Regions from separate parts of the Homo sapiens genome. Here region 2 is linked to region 1. A link means that fine-mapping ties the variant in region 1 to the expression of a gene that starts in the linked region. Tissue or cell type: whole blood. Region 1 holds a variant in brackets; the other region holds the start of a gene. All regions are shown on one strand. Distances are from middle to middle.

Region 1 (2,683 bases):
CGCAGGGAAGGGCAAGGCGGTGTGGGGCCAGCCCTGTGGGATTTAGCTCAGCCTCACTTTCCCTGCCGCCTTGCAGAGGTCTGGCTGTCCTTCGAGTCCCCGTTGATCTCTGGAATTCAGGCATTAGCTCCCAGAGCCCTTTAACATTCATTATTCTACTCTATGAGCTAGGCATGATGGGGGCCGTCATGCCCCTTGAACAGATGGGAAAACCGAGGCTTGGATCACAGAGCTGGTGGGACACAGAGCCAGTGACTGACATAGAAGAGCAGTGGGGTAGAATTACAGTTCCATCTGGTGCCTTTTCTCTGAGCAAAGCTGTATCCATCACCACCAACAGAAAGTCCCAGGGAAGCGAAACCCCAGGGCAGTGTGGTGTGATTCATGCCCACCCATCTTTGTGGCCTTGAAGGCAAGAAACAGAAATCAGACAAAAAAAAAAAAAATAGAACTTTGCTGGCTCGCCCAGAAGTTTGCCATGTGTTTTTTTTTGAGCCATGATTCCCTTCCTCCCTATTAGAGGCAGTCACAGTCCTGATTCAGATGGGGGTTACTTCTTGGCTTTTCCTTAGAAATTTACCACCTATGAGATCCCCAAACAATTCAGTTTCATTTTACTCATCTGTGAATCTTATATAAATTGAACCATGCATACTGTGTGTATTCTCCAGTGCCTTGCTTCTTTCATGCAACATTTATGGGTATAAGATTCACTGATGCATTTCTGTGTAGATACTTTTTTTCATTTCCATTGTTGTGTTGCTACATTATTATTATTATTTATTTTACTTTAAGTTCTGGGATACCAGTGTAGAACCTGCAGGTTTGTTACATAGGTATATATGTGCCGTGGTGGTTTGCTGTACCTATCAACCCATCATCTAGGTTTTAAGCCCTGCATGCATTAGGTATTTGTCTTAATGCTCTCCTTCCCCCTGGCCCCCACCCCTGACAGGCCCCAGCGTGTGATGTTCCCCTCCCTGTGTCCATGTGTTCTCACTGTTCAACTCCCACTTATGAGTGAGAACATGCTGTGTTTGGTTTTCTGTTGCT[T/G]CATTATTTAAATACATCACCATTTGTCATTTTTTGTTTTGTCTTTTGATGCACACTTGGGTTGTTCCTAGGGTGGCCATCATGATCAATGCCACTGATGATATTCTTACACATTTATCCAAGTCCATGTACTTATCTGAGGTGAAATTGCTGGGTCTCAGAGTATAGATAGCTTCAACTGTGCTAGATTACGCCAAATATTTTCCACAGTGGCTGTGCCATTTTGTATTCCCACCAGCAGTATATGAGAATTCCAGGTGCTCCACCTTCTTACCTGCACTTGATATGGTCATTATTATAATTATTTTAAAGATGGGGTCTTGCTCTATCACCCAGGCTGGAGTGCAATGGTACCATCATAGCTGACTGCAACCTAGAACTCCTGGGCTCAAATGATCCTCCCACCTCAGCCTCCTGAGTGGCTAAGACTACAGTTACGTCACCATGCTTGGCTAATAAATTTTTTTTGTTTCTGGAGGGATAGACCATCATGGCCACTATGTTGCCCAGGCTGGTCTTGAACTCCTGGCCCCAAGCAATCCTCCTGCCTTGGGCTCCCAAAGTACTGAGATTACCAATGTGAGCCACTGTGTCTGGTTTGGTCAGTGTTTTTCAGTGTACCACTGCATTAATGTGCAGTGGTCTCTCATCAAGGTTTTAAGTTGCATTTCCCTAAGGACTAATGATGTTGAGCATCTTTTCATGGGCTTATTTGCCATCCTTATACCTTCTCCAATGAAGTGTCTGTTCAAGGTCATTGCTCATTATTGACTTGATTATTTTTAATGGTTTGTAGGTGTTCTTTATGTATTCATTTGGGTTTATGTGCTTCTCAATATCCTTTTCCATCCTGCAGTTTGCATTTTGTACTCTCTTAATGGAGTTTTGTGACGAATAGAAGTTGTCAACTTTAAAGAACCATATTAGTCCTTTGATATGGTTGAATTTCAACTTTCCTAATTGCAACATGAAATTTAATGAAGTCCTCCTAGTGCCAAAACATTCCGCCTTGAGCCAGTGTCATCCTTGGAGGGCATGAAGGTTTCTCCTGTATTTGCTTCTGCAACAAGCTCATAGGCTTGTGAACCTCAAGAGGAGTTCAGATGAGCCAAACACTTAGAACAACACTGTTCCGAGCTGTACAAGTGCTGGCAGTTCTTACTATTCTAAAACCGTTGCTGCTTGTCTTTTTCATTGGAGGCTCTATAATGTCCCTGTTTACCTATTGACCTTGCTTATTGACATGGCCCTGCAATTCCACCTCTCTGCAGTGCCGTCACTGTCATTAAGAACCTCCACATCTGCAAAGGTCTGTCTCTGGGCAGAGCTCACGAGGAGTGCCATGAGTGGTGTGCCTCTGGCCTGCTAGCTGGGGCACCCCGTAAGTGCAGGGGCCATAGGTCGGTCATCTCCGCCTCCCCCTGCCCAGCAGAGGGCCTGGTGGTGTGGCTCCCTGCATACAGTGAGGCTGGAATGCCCTCTCCTCCCTGGGTTGTGTCCCGTAACTTTCCAGTTTTCTCGCCTACTCTCTGCCCAGGCCTGGAATCTGCAAGACACCAGGGTGGACTCTAAGCCTTTCTCTGCAGCCCTGTGAGCCTCTCATGCTGCAGAAGGCAACCACAGGGGAAAA
Region 2 (2,683 bases), 60 kb after region 1:
ACTGGGGGAAATTTGTGTCATGATTAAAAACACACACACACACACACACACACACACACACACCCCTCCTCCTTTCTCAGTGTTAATCACCTTCTCCTATAATTAGCACTTAAAATGTCAAAGGAGAAGAAATTAATTAACAGGAGTATCCAGTGCAGCAAGGCTCTAGGACTGATTATAAAAAGCACTTCCTTAAATATTTTGAGTGCTTTTGGGAATCAGAAGCCTCCCTTCTAATTGAAAGATCCTTAACTACACCCTAAGTCCTGGCTGGTGGCCAGGGGTGCGGGGCTGAGTGAGGCGGCGTGTGGAAATCCCTTCTTCACCATCCTTGGGAAAATTCCCTCCAAACTGGGATAGGTGGCAACAGAGGTTCGGAAACAGCAAGCGTCCCAGGCTGAATCTGCGGAGGAGGAAGAGATGAACCTTTCCTGAGCTGGTACTGCGTGCCAGGAACTTTAGCTCGGTATTTTGCCACAATCCTGTAAGACAACCGATACTATGATCTCCATTTTACAGATGAGGACATTGAGGCTCAGCGTGGTTGTGACTTCCTCAGGTCACGCAGCCACTGAATGAAAGCGCCAAAGATTCAAACTGAGGTCTGATTCTAAAGCTTTGCTCTCTCACGGCATCCTGGAATCCTATTTCAACCTTCATCTGGACTCTTAACCCAGCCCAAACCTAAGCGTCTACAGTTTTGACAGCTGAGGCGGGAGCACGGGAGGCGGAGCTGGTGGCAGCGCAGCGCCCCGCCCCGGCTCCAGCATCAGCCAATGGTGACGCGGCACCCACAGCCTTTCGCCCAATCAGCTTGAGCTTCCCGCCTCCATCCGCCGCTCTTCTCTGCCCCGCCCCTTCGCTTTCCCTTTGGTTCCACCGAGCTTGACAGAGCGGAAAGTCCCTTCGGCCGGCGCCGGGCTGGCAGCCATTGGAGGAAGGTCTGTCACAGGGAGGCCCAATCACGGCCCGCTCAGGAGCGCAGCTCGGCCTACGATTGGCTAGCGCGGCGGCTGCCCCCTCCGCCCCCGCTCCCTCCCTCTTCCCTGTGCGGTTCGGAGGCGGGGCAGGTGGGGGCGGGCCCAGGTAGCAGGTTTGGCTGCGCGGGGGCCGCGCGTCGGAGGTAAATACTAGGGCGGTGGGTGTGGGGAGCCGGGGCCGGCCCGGGACGCGGGCTGGGGAGCCGGGGCGAGGGGCGACGCCCCGCCGCCCGAGGTTAGTGAATGAGCGGGCGGCTGGCGGCCGGCGGGCGGCCGGATCCCCTCGGCGCAGCCGCCTGGCCTCAGGGCGTCCGGAGCCGCCGCGGCGACCATCGGGCCCTCGGCGCCGGCCCGTTAGTTGCCCGGGCCCGAGCCGGCCGGGCCCGCGGGTTGCCGAGCCCGCTGACGTCAGCCCGGGTTTCCCCCCCCCACCGGGGCTTCCCCATCCCCCGAGGCTTCCCGGGAGGGCTGCGAGTCCGGGGAGCGTGCGGGGTCGCCACCATCGGGACCCCCAGAGGAGAGAGGACTTGGGGCGGGAGCCGCGCGGGACGCTGTCCCCCTCCCGCCCCCCACCCCATTTACAGATTGGGAGACTGAGGCACAGGCCGCTGGCGGGCCCCGACGGCCACGGTTGGCCTCAGGAGCCCGGGGCTGTGATTCCTACCGACCGCGCCGCGGGGCGTACGTACCGATCGATTTTGCGGGTGTTGGTGGCTCCCGTCCAGGAATGGCAGTCGGGGTTCTGGCCTTGTTAATGGCGTGTTCTGCTTTTTCTTTCAGTTTCCCCCTTTCTAGGGTGAGGATGGTTCTACACAGCCACCCGGAGTTCCTTAGTTGAAAGGTGCGCCCTGCTGTGACAGGTATTCTTTCTTTATGTTTTTCTTTCATGTTAACAATCGAGGGGGGTGGGGGGCGAATGGGGGGCGGGGGCGAAGTCATGAAATCTTCAGGAGATGGTGTTGAGTTTGGTACTCAGCTGGGTCAGCTGCCGGTTATTCATGTACTTGGCATCGTTTCTCTTCCACCCCTTGGCATTTGAATGTTTTAGGATAGTTGTCATCTTCCAGCCACCAAGCCTGTGGCCTTGCAGTCTCCCAGCCCCCATCATCCCTGCCACCTTCTTCTCCTCAATTTTTCCTGGAAAGTTTTATCCTTAGCTCAGCTAAGGAGCATGCCTACCTTGCTTTTGAATTCGGGCTAATTAGGGATCTTAATAAGATTGTTCATTTTGCAATCATTGGCTCTCAGAGAAGCACCCAGGCCTTGAGAGGGTGTTCGTTTGATTGTTGGCTTTCTACACACCCCCTCACGCCCCAAGTAGACTGAATGGCCTTAAGAATTTAGCCTCCCATTCCCCACTGAGCAGTAGGTGGATTTGAACTAGAACAGTATTAGGAGAAAATGATTTGCTGGAAATTCTTATTGAAGTAACACCCAGAACATTCTCTAATATTCTGCTGCAAAATTGTATAGTATTCTTGCAAATAAACCTTCCTCTGGGTGGTAACTTTTGTGAGAAGCAGATAAGGCTTGTTATATAAAGCACAACTAACATTAAGCAGCAATGATTTTTATAGTCTGGCACACCTAAACTGTGGTTTTGTTTGATTTAAGGAAGTCTCCAACACAGGGAGAGAGAAAGGAATAGTTATGTTGTTTATCAAACTATTAGTATTTTGTTCCTGATTTTCACACTATGATTT

The links. PIP is the estimated chance that this variant, and not a neighbour inherited with it, causes the effect.
Region 2: CYLD starts here. The variant in region 1 is fine-mapped to the expression of CYLD in whole blood (TOPMed, PIP 0.95).

The regions. Positions count from the first base shown.
Region 1 is chr16:50,681,434-50,684,116 of GRCh38, forward strand. No RefSeq gene overlaps it. Among named protein-coding and RNA genes, the nearest start is that of SNX20, 1.5 kb to the left of the region's middle. RefSeq lists an enhancer at 2,583-2,683. The variant T/G (reference allele first, on the strand shown) is at 1,054.
Region 2 is chr16:50,741,002-50,743,684 of GRCh38, forward strand. CYLD (CYLD lysine 63 deubiquitinase) reads left to right here and starts at 1,085. Exons shown (of 19, transcript NM_001378743.1): 1 at 1,085-1,123; 2 at 1,761-1,840. CYLD-AS1 (CYLD antisense RNA 1) reads right to left here and starts at 1,746. Exons shown (of 7, transcript NR_184279.1): 1 at 1,670-1,746; 2 at 327-403. It overlaps MIR3181 (microRNA 3181), which reads left to right and starts at 1,304; the gene lies at 1,304-1,376. RefSeq lists a silencer at 900-1,499 and an enhancer at 1,740-1,839.